Linked DNA regions of Homo sapiens: regions 2, 3, 4 and 5 are each linked to region 1. The links come from fine-mapping of genetic effects on gene expression. A gene starts in region 1. Each other region holds a variant in brackets. All regions are shown on one strand. Distances are between the middles of the regions.

The links. PIP is the estimated chance that this variant, and not a neighbour inherited with it, causes the effect. A credible set is the group of variants that fine-mapping cannot tell apart.
Region 2: its variant is the best candidate, but not a certain one, in a credible set for the expression of BAIAP2 in whole blood (TOPMed, PIP 0.74).
Region 3: its variant is the best candidate, but not a certain one, in a credible set for the expression of BAIAP2 in whole blood (TOPMed, PIP 0.76).
Region 4: its variant is the best candidate, but not a certain one, in a credible set for the expression of BAIAP2 in nasal epithelium (TOPMed, PIP 0.75).
Region 5: its variant is the best candidate, but not a certain one, in a credible set for the expression of BAIAP2 in blood mononuclear cells (TOPMed, PIP 0.58).

Annotation. Positions count from the first base shown.
Region 1 is chr17:81,032,774-81,036,932 of GRCh38, reverse strand. It overlaps BAIAP2 (BAR/IMD domain containing adaptor protein 2), which reads right to left and starts at 1,782. Exons shown (of 14, transcript NM_001144888.2): 1 at 1,625-1,782. The coding sequence starts at 1,678. BAIAP2-DT (BAIAP2 divergent transcript) reads left to right here and starts at 2,214. Exons shown (of 2, transcript NR_026857.1): 1 at 2,214-2,368; 2 at 3,535-4,159. RefSeq lists an enhancer at 970-1,965 and a silencer at 1,837-2,146.
Region 2 is chr17:81,005,045-81,009,862 of GRCh38, reverse strand. It overlaps LOC124904077 (translation initiation factor IF-2-like), which reads right to left. Exons shown (of 1, transcript XM_047437254.1): 1 at 1-4,818. Among named protein-coding and RNA genes, the nearest start is that of CHMP6, 16 kb to the right of the region's middle. The variant C/G (reference allele first, on the strand shown) is at 1,976.
Region 3 is chr17:81,112,118-81,116,117 of GRCh38, reverse strand. BAIAP2 (BAR/IMD domain containing adaptor protein 2) reads right to left here. Exons shown (of 14, transcript NM_001144888.2): 14 at 1-348. The coding sequence ends at 279. Among named protein-coding and RNA genes, the nearest start is that of MIR657, 11 kb to the left of the region's middle. RefSeq lists enhancers at 2,566-3,307, 3,322-3,821, 3,822-4,000. The variant C/G (reference allele first, on the strand shown) is at 2,381.
Region 4 is chr17:81,070,999-81,074,998 of GRCh38, reverse strand. All of the region lies in intron 3 of BAIAP2 (BAR/IMD domain containing adaptor protein 2), which reads right to left. Among named protein-coding and RNA genes, the nearest start is that of BAIAP2, 38 kb to the right of the region's middle. The variant T/C (reference allele first, on the strand shown) is at 1,521.
Region 5 is chr17:80,995,513-81,000,330 of GRCh38, reverse strand. CHMP6 (charged multivesicular body protein 6) reads right to left here. Exons shown (of 8, transcript NM_024591.5): 4 at 4,573-4,659; 5 at 3,259-3,324; 6 at 2,990-3,070; 7 at 1,911-1,965; 8 at 198-1,233. The coding sequence ends at 1,178. Among named protein-coding and RNA genes, the nearest start is that of CHMP6, 6.1 kb to the right of the region's middle. The variant G/A (reference allele first, on the strand shown) is at 2,595.

The DNA of each region.
Region 1 (4,159 bases):
TGCTTTCTGGTTTCAGCGCAGAAGGAGAAAAAATAGGAAAAAGGTTCCGCTGGTACTTCTCTTCCACCCTCTGCAATCACAAACAAGTCGTAATGGAGCTAATGACTAATAATTTAATAAACCTCCCTCCCTTGACAACATGTGCTTCCACAGAGCAACAAGGCCAGAACCGTATGCCACAGACTCTGTGAAACCAAACCTAACAACCCCAGGGCCTGTGCCTTTCCCAAGCCGACTCCTCAGGTCACCCTGAATCCTGTTTCCCAGTGGCTCCGACGTGGCTTTAGGACTCATCTAGTCGACCGCACACCCGCCTTCAGAAACCTTCCAGACTGACGCGGCCCCAACTTCACAAGCTTTATTGAAAGCTGTATTCAAGTGCAATCGGCCCCCTGCACTCCAGCTGGAACCAGAGGGGCCACCCCTGAAGCCTCCATCTGGCTCTCCCAAGCCTGAGAGCTAAGAGGGCTTCCCAGGCCCCTGGCCAGGCACGCCTTGGCCGCCTACCACAATCAGAAACAGTTACTCTGCCGGGCAGGGTGCAAGCCGGTTAGGAAACATGAACCAGCGACTGCCGGGTAAATACCCACTCCACTCATCGCCCAGCCTGTCACTGAACCTGCAGACAGTTTTGAAACAAAGCACATCTGTAAGAGATCGCCCAGGACCCAGGGACACCCAGAGCAGGGGTTTCTCCTCTGAGAAAATGCTCCCCGGCAGCTGCCGGGCTCAGGCGTGGGGGTCTGGACCGAGAACGGATGCTGAAGAAAGAGAAAACCAAGGGCCTGTTTGTCGGTATCCCAGCCACAAAAACGACTGGGGAGGGGGCGGCAGGGGAGGCTTCCAGCGGTGCTCTGCGGCCCTTGGATGTGAACCTGTCATTTCGCAGACGAGAACGTGGATGCCACTCTTAACACATCTGAAGCAAAGGCAGGCACGTCAGCCTCCTACACAATTAGTCTTCTCTCTCCGCGGTTACATAAGATGATAGATTATCCGTCCACCCATCCAGCCTGCCCGCGCTCCGACCTCCCACCTTAGGCCCCAGCATGGGCGCCGGGCAGGAGTTGTGGGAAGGGAAAGCCTGTTGAGAATGAAGTGCCCGAGGCTCGCGCAACCGCGCCTGGAGGAGCCCCACGGTGCCACCGCGCCGACCGCGGCCTTCAGACAGCCCCCATGCCGTCCTGGCCGCCGCAACCCCTGGGCCCGCCGCCCCCGCCGCCCCGGCCCTGCCCGGGTGTGCTACGACCCCGACCGGTCCGAGGGCTTCCGGGGCCCGGCGCGCGGCTCCGTTCCCGCCGACGCCAAGGCGAGCGCGCGGGGGCCGAGCAGGGCCGTCGGAGCGGGGAGTGCTCCCCGGGCCTGGGGCTGGGGACTGACCGGGCCGCGGCGCGCATGGGATGGGGGGGCCCGGGCGGGGGTGGCCACCTGTGAGCGGCCGGCGCCGGGCTCACCACCCCAGCAGCCCGGGTCCCGGGTGGCCGCGCCGGGAAGACCCCCAAAGTCCCAGCCTCCTGGCCCGGCGCGCGGCCCCGGGGCCGCCCTGGTCGGGCTCGGGCGCGCGGGCGGCGCGCGACCCAGGCGCACACGGAGCGGGCTCAGCTCGGCGCCGGGGGGCGCTCACCTTATAGACATTTTCCGTGAGCCGGTGCATCTCCTCTGAGCGAGACAGAGACATGGTCCTGGGTCCCGGCTGCACCACAGACCGGAGCGGGGGACGCAAGCGGCGGCAGCAGCGGCGGTAACGGCAGCAGGACGGAGACGAAAGCGGACCCGAACCACAGAGCCCGGCGTCCGGCGGCGGCCACCTTTATAGCCGCCTCAGGCCCCGCCCCGCGGCAGTCCCCGCCCCTGCGTCCCGCCCCCGTTGCGCCCGCATCACCGCCCCCGACCACCCGCCCCCGCCCGGCGCTGCCGCTGCTAGGCAACCGCCAGGCCCCGCCCCCGCACCGCCCTTTCCATTGGTGGGTTCCGGAGAAGGGGGAGGGGGGCGGGATCGGAGGTGGGGCCTAGTGGCCGACTCCAGGCAGCGATTGGTCTGCGGCGGCGTCGATCCTGGGGGAGGAGAGGGGAGGCGCGGCGCGGGCTGGGGCCCTGGGAGCAGCCTGAGGGGGCCCGGGCAACAGCCGGGCTGGGGGCGGGGAGGCGGGGGCGGGGTGGCGCAGGAAGAAGGAGCAGAAGGTGCGGGGAGGAGAGCGGGGGGCGCCGGCGGCAGCGCGCGTGGAGGCGGCACTTCGCGAAGTGGCACTTCGGGGCGGGCGGCCCGCCGGGTCGCGGCCTGGCGCTGCGGGGCGGGGAGCGGCTCGGACGCAGGACGCCGCGGGCCGGGCTTACAGGTGGGAGAGGCCCCGACCCCGCCGCTTCGCAGGTAAGCCCGCCGGGCGGGCGGCGACCCCCCGGCCGGCCCCTCGGGGCAGAGAGGAGAACCCTGGGGGAGGGGGTGCTGCAGGAGGACCCTGGAGAGAGCTCGGCCCTGGAGTGGGGGACGACTTGGAGAAGGAGGATTTCGGGGGAGCATCGTGAGGAGAGGACTTGGAGGGAGGATCCTGCAGAAGGTGAACTCTGGGGAGGACCCCAGACAGGCAGACAGCGCTTGGGGGCTTGGGGCCGGGATTCTGGAGAGGGGAGGACCCTGGGAGAGGAGGGTTGGGGAAGAGGATCTTGGAGGAGGGCCCTGGGAAGGAGGATCTGGAGAGGGGACAGGGGAGTGTCCTGCTGGAAGGCCTGGGGACAGGGCGACCCTTAGGGACGGGGAGGACCCTCCTGCCGTCAGAAGATTCTCGTTGGAGGCAGTTTACTGAGAGAGAGAGGTCTCGGGAAGGAAGGGTCGAGGGCAGTAGGAAACGAGGGGCCCGGAGGACTCTCATGCGGTGGAAAGCCCTAGGGGGTGGGGGAACCTTGTAGGAGGAATGGAGGAGTCAGAGCTGCCTCCAATTTTTAGGAAGGGTCCTGCTTAAGGGTCCTCCCAAGGGGAGATTCTGCCGGGGAAGCTGGCCGAGTTGGCACACAGGTCTCCCGGTACAATTCCCGTGGAGAAATATTTACATAAATTAGGCTAACATAGAGGAATTATTTGTTTTACGTTGTGAAACACCAGATCTGAGCGTTTCCGTTTAATGAAACCTCTCAGTCTCCCAGCCTCCCATCCCTGCAAAATCATTCATTCATTCATTCCTTCAACGAGTCAGGCCCCTGGGGGAGACGCAGTTGTGCTGGCTGGCCGGCAGATCCCCAGACTGGCACGGGCTCAGGCCGATGGAAAGACCAGGGAAGTAAGATTCAGGAAGCATTGCCTCCCTCCCACCACAGCCCCGCGCCTCCTCTCCTCCGGCTGAATTTCCTTCCAGCTACTGGCCCTGGCTGCTTCCTTTTTCTTTATTGTCTCCAGTGTTTGGGGGTAGATCCCTGTGTATTTATTTTCTAGGATTCTTTTGGTGGTAAATGACAGAAAGCTCGCTCAAACTGGCCCTAACAAATGAGGGCATTTACCTGAAGGTAGGAGCATCTCCACTGACCCTGACCCCCTTCTTCTAGGCCAGCTTCCTGCTGTGTTCCCTGCACCCACCGATCTCACACGCAGCCCTAGGACAGACGTCCACTGGCCTGAGTTGGGTCTGGGGCCAACACGGAGCAGGTGGGGGTAGAGCAGCTCTGCTCGCCTGGAGGAAAGTTGAATGGCTGGAACCAAGATGACAGATGGAGGCTGGCAGGCAAACACGGGAGGCCTCCTCACTCCAAGAGGGGAGTCAGCCTGGGGACAGTTCTTCTCCAGGCCCTGCTGCTCCCATCAGCTGCAACACAGGAGAGGTAGGCTTCTCCGGAAAAGCTCCCACGGTCCTGGATCCCGCTCCACCTTCTAGAAGCTCCCAGCGTTACTTCCTGAGCTGGCCTGCACATCGTTGCGCTACTCCCGTCCAAGGGGGGACATATTCGGTGACCGACTCAGAACGCAGCCTGCTTCCCGGGTGGCCAGTGGCTCAGCAGTCTCGGTGCCTGAGCCTGCTCCCTCCGCCCGGCGGCTGGGCAGGTGGCTGAATGCGGGCTGGAGGCCTTCCCTGAGAAGACGGTTATCCATGCTGTACATGGAAGTGACCAGCTCGGCACCTGAGGAGACACACCGCGGCCGATGACAGGCGCAGAGCAGGACGTGGTGAGGTCC
Region 2 (4,818 bases), 27 kb after region 1:
TGCCCGCCTCCGCCTCTCAAAGTGCTGGGATCACAGCTGTGGGCACCACGCCCGGCCATGAACTGGACATTTTGACGGTTATGCTGGGTGGACTCCGCAACAATCCGCTGGAGAATGTTGATTTTTTTTTTTTTTAAATGCCCATCAACCTGGTTAGTTCCAACCACAAAGTTCTGCTGCCTCTGCTCCAGTCGAGGTTCCACTTTCAAAGCCAATTCCTGTTGCTTCTCTGAGTGCACCCCACACAGGTGCAGCTCGGGTGGGGGAGCCGGGGCTGCTGCTGGTTCCTCCTCAGAGTCCCAAGGCCTCTTTCTCCCACTCGCTCCCTTCTGGGATTCCCCCACCACACGCTTTCTGGACCTCAGTGGCCCCTGTTCACAATTTCTCTTGCCAAAAGGACAAGGTTTCTATGGGAGTTTTAGCTTTCCGTGTTTCTGTGCAGTTCCGTAACTGAGGCCCATCCTGGGGCAAAGCTACGAGAGAAAAGGGAAGATAAAACCAGGAAACGGCTTCCCCACAGGGGCCACCTCCACAGCTTTGGTTTACTGGTTTACTTTGCAGAGTCCTCAGTGGCAGGGCGGTGGTGGCGGGGGCGGGGGGTGCTTTGTTTTTCCTGGATTTGAGTTGTTAGTTGTAACAGTGAAAGAGATGGGCTGGCTGGCCGGGAGTGGTGGCTCATGCCTGTACTCCCAGCACTTTGCGAGGCCGAGACGGGCGGATCATCCGAGGTCAGGAGTTTGAGAGCAGCCTGGCCAACATGGTGAAATCCCGTCTCTACTAAAAATACAAAAATTAGCCAGGTGTGGTGGCACACGCCTGTAATCCCAGCTATCCGGGAGGCTGAGGCAGGAGAATCGCTTGAATCCAGGAGGCAGAGGTTGCAGTGAGCCGAGATCAAGCCACTGCACTCCAGCCTGGGCAACAGAGCGAGACTCCGTCTCAAAAAAATAAAAATAAAATAAAGAAAGAAAGAGATGGGCTGTGGAGGGCTGATGCTACCATCAAGGTATGGACCCTTTGTAGGTAACTTTAAAATGGAGGAAAGATAATCTGGAGATGCTGCAGTTAATCCAAAACAATGGATTTTAAATATTCCTATTTTGCTTGAGGGTCCAGCTTTATCCATTATGTGTTAAAGTTCCCTTCCTGGACCAGGCGCAGTCGCTCACACCTGTAATCCCAGCACTTTGGGAGGCCAAGGTGGGCAGATTGCTTGAGCCTAGGAGTTTGAGACCAGCCTGGGCAACAGAGCAAGACCCCCGCCTCTGCTAAAAACACAAAAGTTAGCTGCGTGTGGTGGCGCATGCCTGTAATCCCAGCTACTTGGGAGGCTGAGGCAGGAGAATCGCTTGAACCCAGGAGGCGGAGGTTACAGTGAGCTGAGATTGGGCCATTGCACTCCAGCCTGGGTGACAGAGTGAGGCTCCGTCTCAAAAAAAAGAGGGCAGACCAAGCAACAGAGACACATACCAAAGACACACCCACGATGGCTTCATCCATGGGAGACGATTGAAAGGCTGGCGTCGCAGCCACGTGAGACATTCCAAGGCAGGTCAGATGAACAGCCCTAGAGCCTGTCTGGAGGAGAGCAGGCGTCTCCTGCGGGACATCATCCTCGAGATAAGGAAGGGTCCTGTTCCTCTTGTATAAATGGAGGTTTTTCTCATGAGTGTCCTTAAATCTACCACTAAACTCAGGTTAAATGCTCTTAGTCTGGAATTAATGTACAGAAACTGGGATGGATATGTTTTCATATTATTTATGAAAAAAATGTTTCTCAAGTAAATGGAACAAGCAGGAATACAGGTGGGAATGCCACAGTACTAGACTACACTGTGCTTCAGAACAGTTTTTCTTTTTTTGAGACAGGGTCTTGCTCTGTCTCCCAGGCTGGAGTGCAGTGGCACGATCATGGCTTACTGCAGCCTCCGTTTTCTGGGCTGAAATGATCCTCCCACCTCAACCTCCCAAGTAG[C/G]TAGGACTATAGGCATGCACCACCATGCCTCCCGGGTTCACGCCATTCTTCTGCCTCAGCCTCCCGAGTAGCTGGGACTACAGGTGCCCGCCACCACGCCCGGCTAATTTTTGTATTTTTAGTAGAGACGGGGTTTCACCTTGTTAGCCAGGATGGTCTCGATCTCCTGACCTCGTGATCCTCCCGCCTCGGCCTCCCAAAGTGCTGGGATTACAGGTGTTAGCCACCGCGCCCAGCCTAAGATACCCACTTCTAATCAACATTGTACTGAAGCTTTAACCAGGCACTTAGAGAAGGAAATGAAATTAAAGGCATCCAGGTTGGAAATTAAGAGGTAAACTATCTCTCTTTACAAGTGACCTCATCTTGTATATAAAAAGTCCTAAGGATTTCACTTAAAAAAACCCTAATAAACAAGTTCAGCAACATTGCAGGAGACAAGCTCAATATACAAAATCAGCTGTATTTCTGTATATTTAAGTGAATAATCTGAAATTGAAATTAAGAAGATTTCATTTACAATAGCACCAAAAATAAAACAGTAATAGGCTGAACAAAACAAGTATAAAATTTATACTCTGAAAACTACAAAACTTGGTTGAAAGAAAGTAAAGAAGACCAAAATAAATGGAAAGGCACCCTCAATCCACGGATCTGGACTTAATGTAGCGGAGACGGCGGCACTCTCCAAACACATCCACAGATTCTACGCAACTCCTATCAACATCTCACTTGGCTCCTCCGCAGAAACTGAAAAGCTTATCCTAAAAATTCACATGGAAATTTGAGGGTCCCAGAATAGCCAAAACAATCTTGAAAAAGAAGAACAAAGTTGGAGAACTCACACTTCCCAATTTCAAAGCTTACTACAAGGCTGCCATGAGGACGTAAGAATAGACACACAGAGCAATGGGACAGAACTGAGGGCTGGAAAGAAGCTCCTGGCTACAGGCAGCGGGTTTCCACACGGTGCCAAAACAATTACACGGAGAAAGGACTGTCTTTTTAACAAATGACGCTGGGACAGAAAAATACCCACATATAAAAGGAAGAAGTCAAGCCGGGCGCGGTGGCTCACGGCTGCAATCCCAGCACTTTGGGAGGCTGAGCCAGGCAGATCACCTGAGGTCAGGAGTTCAAGACCAGCCTCGCCAACAGAGTGAGACCCTGTCTCAAAAACATATTTATATAAATATAAATAAACTATAAAACTGTTAAGAAATCATAGACACAAATCTTCATGATCTTGGATTAAGCAGGGGTTCCTTAGCTATGACACCAAAAGCACAAGGAACAACAACAAAAATAAATTAGATTTCATCAAAATTAAAAACTTTTGTGCTTCAAGGGACACCATCAAAAAGGTTAACAAGACATCCCAAAGAATGGGTGAAAATATTTGCAAATCATGTGTCTAATAAGGGTCTAGTATCCCGAATAAAGTATTACAACTCAATAAAAAGACAACGAACCCAATTAAAAATAGGCAAATTATCTGAATAGACATTTCTCTAAGATATACAAATGGTCAGTAACACCCACGAAAAAATGCTCAACACCATTAGACACCAGAGAAATGCAGGTCAAAGCCACAATGACGTACCACCTCATGCCTGCTAGAGTGGCTGTAATCAAAAAGAATATAAGAGTTGGTGAGGCTGTAGAGAGACCAGAACCATCGGCCACTGTGCAAAAGAGTGTGGTCGTTCATCCTATGGGTGAACATCCAGTTACCACACAACCCAGCAATTCCACTCCCAGGTGCAGACCCAAGAGCAGACGCTGTCCACACAGAAACCTGTATAGGAATGTGTTTGTTTTTAAAATTTGTTTATTTTTGTTTTATTTCTTTATATGAGACGGAGTCTTGCTCTGTTGCCAGGCTGGAGTGCAGTGGCGCAATCTCGGCTCACTGCAACCTCTGCCTCATGGGTTCAAGCGATTCTCCTGCCTCAGCCTCCAGAGTAGCTGGGACTACAGGTGTACACCACCACGCCTGGCTGATTTTTGTTTTTTTTTGAGTCTTTTTTTTTTTTTTTTTTTGAGACAGAGTCTTGCTCTGTCACCCAGGCTGCAAGTGCAATGGCATGATCTCGGCTCACTGCAACCTCTGCCTCCCAGGTTCAAGCGATTCTCCTGCCTCAGCCTCCCGAGTAGCTGGGACTACAGGCATGCGCCACCACGCCTGGCTAATTTTGTATTTTTAGTAGAAACGGGGTTTCTCCATGCTGGTCAGGCTGGTCTCAAACTCCTGATCTCAGGTAATCCACCCGCCTCGGCCTCCCAAAGTGCTAGGATTACAGACGTGAGCCACCTCAGCCGACCTTGTTATTTATTGTTTTTTGTTTGTTTTTTTTTTTTTTTTGGAGACAGAGTCTCGCACTGTCACCAGGGCTGCAGTCTGGAGTGCAGTGGCACGATCTCGGCTCACTGCAACCTCTGCCTCCGCCTCCCGGATTCAAGCCATTCTCTTGGCTCAGCCTCCCTAGTAGCTGGGATTACAGGCGCCCGCCACCATGCCCAGCTAATTTTTGTATTTTTAGTAGAGACGGGGTTTCACCATGTTGGCCAGGCTGGCCTCGAAATCCTGACCTCGTGATTCGCCTGCCTCGGCCTCCCAAAGTGTTGGGATTACGGGCGTGAGCCACCGCGCCCAGCCCCGTTTTTTTTTTTAAAAGACAGAGTCTTGCTCTGTCGCCCAGGATGGAGTCCAGTGGCATGATCAACTCTGCAGCCTCAAACTCCTGAGCTCGAGTGATCCTCCTGCCTCAGCCTCCTGAGCAGCTGGGATTATAGGCGCCCGCAACCACGCCAGGCTCACACACACACACACACACACACAC
Region 3 (4,000 bases), 79 kb before region 1:
TCCATGGCCATGTGACCAGAGGCGTGTACCCTCAAGAGGCGGCCCCTCAGCCCTGGGCAGCCCAGCCACTGGGTCTCGCCCTTCAGGGGCCTGCGCCCCACTCTGCCCGGCCCTGCCTAGAACAGCTGGGATCCAGTCCAGGCCAGACTCAAGTGGGGCAAGACCAGGCAGCCGGGGCCTGGATGTTCTCTACACAGGAACGCACAGATGATGACAGAACAGGCTACATGGGAAGGGCGGGGGAAGCCACCAGATGGGCAGCACTGCAGATGTGGCCATCAGCTGAGGAGGGGGGCAGACCTGTCGTTGGTCACTGTCGGCTTCAGCTGGACGTGGGCAAAGGGATTCCTGAAAGAGAAAAACGTGGTTTTAATTTTTAGGGCGGAAGCCATGGGTGAATTGTGCCACCTGGGCTGCCCGATGCCCCAGGGATTCCCCAGTGCTGGATGCCTACGGTCCGATCTCAGGGCACAGAGCTCACAGACAATATACGCTGCTTTGCGGGGCAGGGAGGACCAGGCGCTGTCTGCAAGGCTGCCTGACCCCCAAGTCCACTATGTGCCCTAGACAAGGCAGGGTGCCCCCACCCCGATCCATCACCCTCCCAGCAGTGTGGGCTGGGCAGGGCAGGGCGGGGTGGGGCGGGGCAGGCCAGCCACAACCTCCCAGTGAGGGGCGGACATCACCACTGAGGCTGGGGATTCAAGACAGGCCTGAACCGGGCACACACCAGTTTGGTGGCTCCCCCACCAGGCCAGGCCCACACCCAGGGACACAGCGTGGCAGAGCGTCCAGCCCAGCCCTGGCATGGGGGCATCCAGAGAAGGCAGGTTAGGCTCACGGCTCCCGCAGGGCTGCAGATGGACACCCATGGGCCCTGCAGAGCAGCTGGCCATCCCCTGGGCCAGACAGTGGTTCACCTGCTGTGGGCTCAGCCACCTGTCCCCCGAGGGGTGCCGCGCCCTCCCCCATATCCCCGGGGCCACAGCTGATGCACAAATACGACTCAAGACAAGAAGTTGAAATGGAACAAGATGAGCACGGATGAGAGGGATGCCTGAGCCTTTCTCTTTGGAGTCCCCACCCCCGGAGGGGACAGCACAGGACAGGATGGGGGATGTCAGGCAGCTCCAAGGGTGACAGCACAGATGGCACGTGGACATGAAGACGCAGCAGGGACGGGACTGTGCTCTGGCAAAGCTGTGCTTGGACTCTGGAGCCATTACCTGGAGCAGAATCACCTCTGGCACAGCTGGGTCCACAAGAGCCCGGGCAGCCGGGAACAACCCTGGGGACGGGCAGGCAGACTCCGTCCAGCTACCCGGGAAGAGGCACAGGCAGCCGGAAGCAAACCCTGGGGTGGGCAGGCAGGGTTCCGTCCAGCTGCCCAGGAAGAGGCACAGGGCAGAGGCAGCTCCCTAAGCTTTCCTGAGGACTTTGTGTTTTCTAAGAACTTGAAACACTACAGACTGAGTTTTTAAGAGAATAAAGTACGTGGAAGAGACTGACAGGTCTGCGGAAGGCTCCCAGACTCCCAGATGGCGTCTAAGCATTGGCACCCTGCTGAAAGGATCTTTTGATCTACTCTCAACGTGCTGGAGCCTCAGGGTCTGCTGGATCCCCGGCTTTTTTCAGCTTTGATCGGTGCAGCTTTGCCCTTCCTGGGGCCTGGGTAGGGGCTGCCTAGGGGCCCGCTGGTGAGGATTCCACCTCCATCACTGATGTCTGCCCATGCCCTGTCTGCCTGCCAGGCTAGACCCACTCCTAAGGAAGTGCTCTGTGGCCCGAGTTCCTCCGCAGGCCCAGGGTCCGGAGGGAGCTCTGGGGAGATTAGAAATGGGGCTGGCTGGGCATAGTGGCTCCTGCCTAGAATCCCAGCACTCTGAGAGGCCAAAGCAGGAGGAACCACTTGAGCCCTGGAGTTCAAGACCAGCCTGGGCAGCAAAGCGTACCCGTCTCTACAAAAAAAAAAAAAAAAAAATTAGGCAGGTGCGGGAGAGTGGTGCATGCCTGTGGTCCCAGCTCCATGGGGGGCTGAAGTGGGAGGATCGCTTGAACCCAGGAGGGCGAGGCAGTAGTGAGCTGTGTTCCCACCACTGCACTCCAGCCTGGGTGACAGAGTAAGACCCTGTCTCAAAAAAAAAAAAAAAAAAAAAAAAGTGGGTTCCCAGAGAAGGGTCCTAGATCTGGCCCAGACCACAGCCGAGGGCAGTGCAGCCGCGTGGTTCTCACTCCTGCCCCGAATCACAGCCGATTCTCATCAGAAAGTCAGTGGCAAAGGCACATCGCTTGCCTGGACCCCACGGGGAGCTGCAGGGGTAGGAAGCCCTCCACTGGTGCAGGCCTGTTCTCTAACCTGCATTTTTCTCTTCTTGTCTCC[C/G]AGAACAGTGGGACCAGGTGGAGCGTGCTGAACCATCCACACTGGGTGGCTCTGAGGACCCTGGGGCTGGGGCTGCAAATGCTGTGTCCAATCTCAGCCTGACGGGGGCAGGGGGGTCGGCGGGGATGGGGAGAGCGCAGGCCAGAGCCCAAGGCTGGCTGGGACAGCAGGCCCACAAGGAGGGGCTGGGCGTCCCTATTTCCCCACCCTGGCCCCCACCCCCCAGCTGTCTGGGAAAGACGCGCCCAGGAGGCCGGCGGGGAGCTCGCTGTGCTGAGTGGGGGCCTAACTGAGCCAATAGAATATGACAAAGTCTGCAGCCCAAGGCCACTGCAAGGTCACCACACGTTAGCCACAGACATTGGTCCCTGCCGGAGGACACGTGCCAGGCCCCACCTCCTGCAGGACATGGCCCTGGGCAGCGATTGCCACGAACTACCCAATGACACCACCAGCACCTCTCCAGCCAGCAAAGGAAAGTCACCAGACGTGTCCAAGAGCGGAGGACCCTGAGGAGGGCCTGCGTCATGTGTGGGGGAGCTGTTGGGCGGGCAGGGCGCTGGCCTCAGAATGCAGAGGCCTGGGCTCTGTCTCCTCACAGAGAGCCTCCCCTCAGAGGCCCCTAAGCAAGGCCGCAGGGGAGACCGGTGGCTTTTCTAATTTTTAAATTGTATTATTATTTTGAGACAGGGTCTTGCTCTGTCTTCCGGGCTGGAATGCAGTGGTGCAATTGTAGCTCACTGCAACCTCCACCTCTGGGCTCAAGCAATCCTCCCACCTCAGCCTCCTGAGAAGCTGGGACTACAGACGCGTGCCACCATGCCTGGCTAATTTTTAACTTTTTTTTTTGTCAAGATGGGGGTCTCCCTAGGTTGCCCAGGCTGATCTCGAACCCCTGGGCTCAAGAGATCCTCTCGCCTCAGCCTCCCTAAGTGCTGGGATTACAGGTGTGGGCCACGGCGCTCGGCCAAGCGGCAGCTTCACCAATGACTTGAATGTGAAGCAGAAGGATTCCGAGAAGAAACGGAGCCGTCACAAATGCATTTCGACCAGTTGGGTGACTCCAGACCCAGAGCCGGGCGGACAGCACCTGTTTTCTGTCTTCTCGCGTCAGCTGTTTCTTCGTGTCTTCAGAAGGTGGGCCCTTCTGGAATCGGGTCCAGCGTGGGCGCTTGGGCCTCCGCTGACGAGTATGGACAGCGGCCAGGGACGCTCGCCCCTCCACTCTCATTCCAAGGCCCCCTTCCCAGGGCCCAAAGCTGGGGCATGACAGGGTGGCAATGGGATTGGGGAGTCTCTTGGCCAACTGCAAGTGGCTTTCGACACCCCCAATCCCAGCTGAGTTGTCAGACCAGGCAGACTGCGTGGCCGGGAAACTGGCCCCTGGCACTGTGGAGTGGTGCTGGGGCTGAGCACCACTGCCCCACCGGCACTGCTACCCAGGGTCTCTGCCCTCCAAGGGACGTGGTCCCTGACAGAGGCTGTGCCAGCCTCATCTTTGAGCCTTCACCCCTTCCAAGCCTCACCAGGTAAGGGCAGTTCAGCCCCCTCAGCTCAGAGGGACCTGGGGGAGTGGGGGGGTCTGGAGGCCTCCCAGAAACAGCGTCTCGGAAGGGAGGA
Region 4 (4,000 bases), 38 kb before region 1:
TTCTTCCCTGTGGTTTAGAAAACAGAACTACATTATTCTCTTCCCAGCCCAACCTTTCCAACCTGGAGAGAAGTTGCAGGGATAGCAGAGCAAACACCCATTCACTTCGCCGAGGTTCCCTGGCGGTGTGCTTTGCCACAATCGCTTCACCACTCTTTCTGTGATGTATAGGTACACCCACATGCACTCACACGCATCCGTACATGCACACAGACACACAGGCACTTATGCATCCGTGCACACACACAGGCACTCACACGCATCTGTGCACGCACACAGACGCACAGACACGCATCCGTGCATGCACACACACAGGCACTCATACGCATCCGTGCACGCAGACACAGAGGCACTCAACGCATCCGTGCACGCACACAGGCACTCACGCATCCGTGCACGCACACACAGGCACTCACACATCCATGCACGCACACGAACAGGCACTCACACATCTGTGCACGTGCACACACACAGGCAACTCGTACGCATCCATGCACGCACAGACACAGGCATTCACATGTATCCGTGCATGCACACACACTGGCACTCACATGTATTTGTGCATACACACACGTACTCACACGCATCCATGCACGCACACCAGCACTCACGTATCCGTGCACGCACACACAGTGACACATGTACCAGTGCACGCACACTCACACGTATCCGTGCATGCACACACACCGGCACTCACACGTATCCATGCATGCACACAGACACACAGGCACTTTTTTCAGCCCCTTGAGACTCAACTGCAGACATCAGACAATGTGATGCTGCCCCTGCCCCCAATACTGCAGCTGTGTCCTAAGAGCAAGGACCTTCTCTGCCTCATCACGCCTCCATTGTGACACACAGGAAGGTTACCACAGACGCATCCTCCTCTCATCAACAGCACACACCATGCTCCTGAATGGCCCGACGATGCCATTGACAAGCTCCTCCCTGATCCAGGTTCTCATCAAGGGTCCCGCTGTGTTGCGTTGGCACGTGGCTTTAGTCTCTCTCATTTTAGGAAAACAAATCAGCATTCCACCTATTGGAAGACTGCTCCATAAGCACTTGAGACAAATAAGTGATACACGGGCTTAACCGTGAGCGACAAGGAACTGGCGCCTGCCAGCTCCCAGAGGACTCTCACCCTTCCTCTGGGGCGCTGGGCATCTTTAGTCCTTTAACCTAGAAGAGCCCCTCACACTTCGGCTTTCACAACAGTGACATTTTAAAGATTTGTGCCTTTTTTTACTCCAGAAAATACAACGTGTTCTTATAGTCTGCGAGTGACAAGAACCTGAGAGAGAGCGTGAATCTCAGAGACAGTGAAAAAGACTGGGGGAGGGAAGAGCCTGGGCCTCGGATGCTCTCAGCCCAGGGTTGGAGGCAGATCTGTGCAGATCGTCGTCCTCATCTGCGAGGGCAAACAGCAGCTCAGACCCTGCCCGAGGGTCCCCAAATGCTTGACTCCGAATCCCAAATGGAGCATAAACAGCATTTCATGATGATTTCAGTTAACACTC[T/C]GCTTAGTCAGTTAAAAGATCATTTCTACCAAAGCACGGCCCGAGACCAGCTTGGTGACTGCTCCCAGGAAGAAGGCTGGCGGCCCTGGCTGAGCCCAGGGTGAGGGGAGCAGCACAGCCTCCACCTCCCCACCCCGGCCTGGTACTCCTACAAACCAAGAGGTCCGAGTATCTGAAAGGCACCCCAGGTGGTAAAAGTTCTGAACTCCTGGGTAACCAAGAGACTGCACAGGAAGCTGGGACCACAGTGGTGGGGAAGGTCCGAGAAGGAGGCTTCGATCTCTGAGGAGCAGGGGTGCTGAGCCCTGGCATGGGGAGGGGCCGCTGGAGGGTCATGGGGACAGAAGGCCCCACGCCACCTACGAAGAGAGCTTCAACCCACTGGGGCCACCAGGGCCCCAGAGCAGGTACCCTCCACCTGCTACCTGTCTGCTGGCTGGGGGTCATCCTGGAGGTGACAGGCACCCAATACCCAGGGCTGTGGGAAGGGGCTCCAGGCCAGATGCCATTTTCTCATCAGGGAAGCGTGCATGTTTGTACCCGGCACCCGGGATTAAATCAGTAAGATGCAGGCTCATGACCACAGACAATGAGGTCCGTGAGGCCCACGGGACAGCCCGGCCCCAGAGCAAGGACTGGGGGTGTGTTCACCTGCTCAGCAGACAGCCCCACTCTGACACCAATGGCCCCTTCTCATACACCCACCTCCAAGCAGAGGACGCTGGGCGAAGAGGTCAGGAAAAATGAAAGAAAGGCAGAGCCTGCCAGACAGCGTCCGCCCGCCTGTGCTCAGAGTGGGAGGCGTGGCCTCTGGGCGCAGGTGTCTGCAAAGGTTGAAGACCCCACGGACTTGGGTCAGCACCTGCCAGAGCTCTCCCAGGAGGGTTAGCCTCCTTCTCGGACAGGGGCCAGGAATTCAGGAAATGCCAGGTTCGGGTGGGGACGTGGAGACGGCTGTGAGGCTGTGGCCCAAGTGGGGCCTGGAGCAGATCGTCTGCTCTTGGCACCAAGGTGAAACTGACGAGTGTGGGCGTCAAACAGGGCAGGAGAGTTTTCCACTGGACCCTGAGAAGTGCTCAGGTGGCCACAAGGCATGGACATAGGGACACTGAGGAGAGCCCCTCCTGTTCCCTGATTACATGGGTCAGGCCGGGCTGCGCAGGAGGAGGTGAAGGAGCAGGAAGCCGGAGGGAATCAAGGAACATTGTTGTGGACTGAGGTGGGGCCTGCGCAGGTCTCCCAACGCTGCCCTGGGGCACTCCAGCCATCTGGGAAAAGGGAGTGGCAGCCCTTGGGCAGGTGGAATGCAGATGGCCCAGCCCACCCTCCCCAAGCTTCTGAGGGCTGGAGCCAGCCGGGGAGGGCACGGCACCCACAGCCCGCAGGGAACCCCAGCCCTACGTGGGCGCTCGAAGGAGGAGCAACAGGACCAACACAACCACGATGATGGCCCAAGAGACTGGGAAGGCCGGGGAGGCCGGAAGCAGAGGGGGAGGGGGGGATGATCACGGACGAGAGGAGAGGCAGCAAGGAAATGGAACAAGATGCCCCAGACTCTGCAGAGGCATAGACCTGCATGCTCCGGCGCCTCCGTGCCACGCTGGAGGAGGGGACCGGCCACCCACAAGGCCCTACTTGGCGTGGGAACTGCTCCAATTCTCGGCTGCCTCCTGGACAGAGCTCGGATGGCAGAATGTGAGCCACAGCAGCTCGTGGCGGTGCGGGATGGTGCGGAGAAGGCATCCGACCCCCGCGCTGAGTCTGCCGGGAGCTGGACGTGAGTCCCTCAAACAGAGGCTCAGGGACGGACGGGCGCTGCTACCGAGTGGTCAGGGTGCTCTTTTTGGCCAGTGGACACTGAGGGCACAGAAACACTCGTTTCCTGGATATTTCTGTTGCTTCCGGAGGCACTGGAACTCTTCTCCTTTCTCTGCTGGTGGAAGAGGGGCTCTGTGCGAGAGGTCAGCTGCTCCAAGCTGGCTGTGAGCATGCATCACCTTCCAGAGCCTTCTGAAGTAGCTATCCACAACTCTCAATTATCCTGGTGGCTTCCAGAGCCCAAAGGCACCTCGAGAGCTCATCACCACCCACCTGGGCAGGGCTCGAACAGAGCGCCCTCATCACGGGGAAGGACAGATGGCCAGGGGGCTGACAGGACATCTTGCTATCAGAGCCCCCACAGGGGCCAGGGGACCAGATCCAGTGCTGACCCAAAGCCCAAGGACGCCACCTCGGGGGTGACTCCCAATCCCGCCCCTTCTCTCTGCTGCCCTCCAGCCACCAGCTTCTCCTTGGGAGAAGCAGAGTTCTTCTCCCACCTACAAAAAAGGCAAAAATGGAATGTGGCCAGCGGGTAACCAATGGGGGAAAAAAAAAAAATCAATGTCTGTGTTGCCATGGTGATGACGGTAGCTGACGCTGCTTCCCCACACACAGTTCTGAAACCAAGCAAGTCCAAAGAGCCACCTTGGTGTCAAGGC
Region 5 (4,818 bases), 37 kb after region 1:
CAGAGCTTCCATCTCACGTGTGCAGAGCCCAGGCCTGGCCGGACTGGGCAGGAGCCCTCCAGTGAGCGTCCCCATGCTGGTCAAGGGGCTGGGCTTTGGTCAGGGTCACCGTGGGGGAGGGGCCGCACACAACCCACCCACGCTCCCACAGAGGGAGCCACGCCTAGGTGCCCACTGCGCCCAAGTCCACGAGGCAGTGGGCGTGCAGGGCCAACTTTAATACGGGCCGGCCTGTCTGGGGGTCGAGGTGGCCGCTCCCTTTGTCCTTGTGGCTTTCCACGGGCAGGGGCGGTCCCAGCGAGATCGTCTCATAACCAAACCAGCCCTGTGCACGAGAAGTCACGCCATGCCCCACAGCCTCCAGTCCTGGCTGCTGGTGGCTCGGGGACCCGCAGGGCAGGAGGGTCCCGGGTCTCGCAGTTCCATGAGCCCCAGCCGCGGGGACCCCCATGGACAAACTTCCGGGGCTGCACCTGCCGGAGCAGCGTCTCCCAAGCATCGGAGGTCCTTTCTCAGCAGGGCTGAGCCCTAGTGGACAGAGCCGTGAGTGGCAAGGCGGGAGTCAGGGCTCTCGGAGTCGTCAATTCAGCAAGAAAGCCCCTGGCCCGCCACCTTCAAACTGGAGGTGGGTGTCTAGGGTGCGGAGGCAGAGGCACAGAGAGGTTCAGCACATGCTGGTCTCCTGGGGATCCCCCCACCAGCAGGGAAGCTGAGGTGCGCCGGGAAGCCAGGCCAAGGGAGGGACCCCTTAACGGAAGCCTGCACCAGCTAATGGGAGCAGCGAGGAGCAAGAGGAAGCGCGGGGACCCCAAGGTCTGGAGGTGTCTTCCTCACAGACGAGCGCGAGCCACGCGGGGCTGGGACTGCAGGGGAACAGCACCAGAGGCGTTGGGCCTGGGCCTCGGCCACCGGGGGAGCCCACAACCGGCAGAAGCTGGGCTCGGTCGAGAGTTAATCCGGACTGAGAGCAGGCCAGTGGCGCCTGAGTGCGTTCAGGCTCAAGGTCTCCAGGAGACGCTCTGGAGTCCTCCTGCAATGCGCCTGCGTGGCTGCAGCTCTGCTCAGCACCGTGCGCACTGGGCTCCAGGGAACCCGGTCAGGGGCTGGCCGTGACCCAAACTCTCTGTGGGCCACAGTCCCTGGGGCATCCCCGTGAGTCCCACAAGACGAGGCCACGTTACGAAGCTGCCACCAGCTCCGCCTGCCTGGGCCTGGCCTTGACAGGGACGTTTTCTGTGGAGGAAACAGAGATGTTTATGACACGCCAAAGACCCACAGGCAGAGACCTCCAGAGAGGGACGAGGCCACAGGGGTGGCAAGGGCCAGTTCCGGGGACTTCGCACTAGGGAAGGGCACGCCCAGCTCTGGGGGAGGCAAGTGACAAACAGGAAGCCAATGGGGCTGACAGACAGGGCCAGGGACACGGGACAGTGGGCCAGGAAAGCACAGCCCCTCCCAGCGGGACTCAGAGAGGAGAAGAGCCCCAAAGATGGGTAAAGGAACAGAACAAACGTGGATGGACGGTTCTAAAGTCAGCTTCCCAGTGGGCAGGTTGGAGAGCCTGTGCTGAATGGTGCCACGGGGAGAGCCATCCCTGGCTGAGGGCTAATCCTGGGCTACACCCTGGGAATGAGCTGGTGCTGCTAAAGAAGCCTTTCCCCAGTTCTGATTTCTGAATGTGTCTCTTTGAATGGGGTATGGCTCTCTTATGAGGTTGCCCAGTTACCGAACCCCTGGGAAACCCAAGCCCAACCCCAAGGCCAGGCACGCACGCCCCCAAGCCAAACAGCCAGGCAGCAGGGCTTGCCCACGGCCCAGGAAGGCCTGGGAGCATTCTGTCTTGTTCCCTTCTAGAATCCACTTTTCTCCTGCGAATTCCAACCATTCAAAAGAATCAAACATGGAAATACCTGGGATCTTCTCAGGAAGGGGCTCGGAGGGAACCTCTGGCAGCTCTATTTGTTCCTGCAAGAAGCAAAGGGTAAGGCTATGAGCAGGTGACAGGTCTGCCCCGGGCTGCCTGGGCCTCCCCGAGAGGACACGGATCCTGTCCGTCAGCCGCTCTCAGCCGGAGTTAAAGCGGACAGGAACGTGCTGCTCAGAAGACCCAAGTCTGCAACCGCCCCGGCTTCTGGTGCCACCAGAATCCCCTAGGTGGTGACGCAGCCGCTACCATGGAGGCTCCTCCCAACAGACCCTGGGGCGCTGAGGGGCTGTAAGGAGGCGACGTCCTGGGTGTGCCCCAGAGACCCTGGCTCTCAGGGACCGAGGGGTGGGTGACACAGACACCCAGGTCACGCTGGTGTCCACCACTGCGGGGTGGGCTGCGGTACAACGCTGTCCCAGCGAGCTTGGCTGCCTAAGCCAGCACGGGTGCTTCTGCCTCTCAGCTGGCCTTCCCTGGAGGCCCCGGAGGACTCGGACCCTCAGGAGAAAGTAACTGGACAAGCAAGTGGGTGCAGGCACCATGGGCCGCACAGCACCAGGGCGCCGGGGCAGCTGGCAGCAGGGCTGGGGCAGAGGCCGGCTCTGGGGGCACCATGAGAATTTGGCGGACTGAGGCAGGGGCCCACAGAGAGGACAACCCCTGTGTC[G/A]GGGAGTGAATACAGACTCAGAGCCTGGATGTGAGCCTGGGGCCAGGACGCGGCCCCCGCAGCGAGGGCCTATGTGGGACGTGAGTCAGCAGCCACGGCTGGGGAAAGCCAGCACCACATCCGTGACAGCCGGGGACAGAAAGGGGCCGAGGCGCCAGGAAGGCCCAGCACCCCCGCTCTGTCCAGGGCACGGGGCCAGCCTGCCTGCACCAGACCGTTGGGTGAGCAACCCTGAAAACAGAGTCACCTCAGGTAGGAAAACCAGTCACAAACCGCAGACTATTTACTTAAAGGACACCACATACGAGATCACCATGGGCAGGGCCTCCTGGGGGTCTGAGCTCTGGGGGTCCCGCTGCCTGAGTGACTGTGCTCAGTCCCGGGGGGGCCGTTACCTGAGTGATTGCGCTCAGCTCCTCCAGGATGGCGTCTTCATCCTCCTGAGTGAAGCTTCCTGCCAGGAGCTCGTCTATTTGCTGCAAAAGGACAGGCGGTGGTGAGAGCAGCGAGGAGGTGGCCCCTCAGGGAGGAAGGAGATGGCCTGTGGCTGGGTCTCGTCCCCTTGAGAGAAGGCGGCCGCTCTAGGATGTGGGACAGTTTGGCCCTCGAGGGTGGCCTTGTGGGTTCTCACAGTTGGGGGCAGGCCGGTCAGGGTGCCACCTACCCGCTGGTACTCCACGGCCTCCTGCGTCTCGTCCAGGATCCTCTCCACCTCTTCAATGGACATCACCTGTGGACGAGGGTGATGGGTGTTGACCCCTGTCGCGAGGCCAATGGTAGACCCCCGACAGAGGCCTCCTGGGCTCTCAGGGCCATGGCCTCACCCCTCTGTTTATTTTTATTTATTTTTAAAGACAAGGTCTGGCTGTGTTGCCCAGGCTGGGCTCAAGCGATCCGTCCAAGTAGCTGGGACTACAGGTGCATGCCACCACACCCAGCTCCTGTCCCTGTTTAAATGAGGCCAGGACATGTGTGTCCCAGGCATGGGCCTGTCCTGAGGCCACAGGGGCCGTTTGATGAGTCTTTTCAGAGGCCACGACTGCACTGCCCTGGCGCCCGATGCCCCCTCTCACCCTGAGTCAGCTCTCACAGCCGCCAGTAAAAACAAGCAACAGGTAGAACATTCTGGGCAGGTGACTTGATTTCTTTTGAGTGGCAAAAGGTCAAAGGGCCACTTGTGCTTGACCGGCACACACCACCAGTACTCACCAAACACTTGGAAAAGTAGCACAGCCAGACCTCCCGCCAGGTGAGTCCCTGGCTCTCCAACTAGCCCCACCTACTGGCCCCCATGTCAGGAGTGTGATGGGGTTGGTGGGGGAACGTGGTATGGCCACGCTGGGCTTCACATCCATGCCCGGCCTGAGATGAGGCCGGTATTCACCTCCTCCAGGAAGCCTTCTTTTTTTTTTTTCCTGAGACGGAGTTTTGCTCTTATCATCCAGGCTGGAGTGCAGTGGCGCAATCTCATCTCACTGCAACCTCTGCCTCCCGGTTCAAGAGATTCTCCTGCCTCAGCCTCTTGAGTAGCTGGGTTTACAGGTGCCTGCCACCACGCCTGGCTCATTTTTGTATTATTAGTAGAGACAGGGTTTCACCATGTTGGCCAGGCTGGTCTCGAACTCCTGACCTCAGGTGATCTGCCTGCCTTGGCCTCCAAAAGTGATTACAGGTGTGAGCCACCACACCCGCCACCTCCAGGAAGCCTTCTGTGATTAGTTTGCCAGCCCCCTCCCCACCCTCAGACTTCCCTTCTATGTCACTTCGGCGCCTGGGGACCCAGTTCCCACAGTTCCCAGCCTGTGCTGCACCCGGTCACTGCATCCCTGCCTGCCTGGCAGCACCCAACACATCTCCCCTGCCAGCCTCTTGCCCTGTGTCTGACACGAACACCGTGGGACAAGCCCCCCGCCCTATCCCCAGCTCCAGCCCAATGGGCTCCCCACACCTCCATGCCCCTGGCCCTGCAGAGACTCACCTGGTGCATCTTGTTCAGACACTCATTTCCAAACTGCAGCCCCTCCATCACTTTCATTTCGATCTGGGTGAACTCAATACTCTGAACCTGAAAAGGAAACCAGAGCAGACGCAGGTGCTGAGGATCCGGGGTGCCCTCCTCCCGGCCCTGGGGCAGGGTTCAGGATGACACCCTTGCTGGGCGGGTGCTGCTGGGCGTGAGGGTGACTCCTGACACCTGCTCCTCCCTGTCCTCTCCCACTGCCAG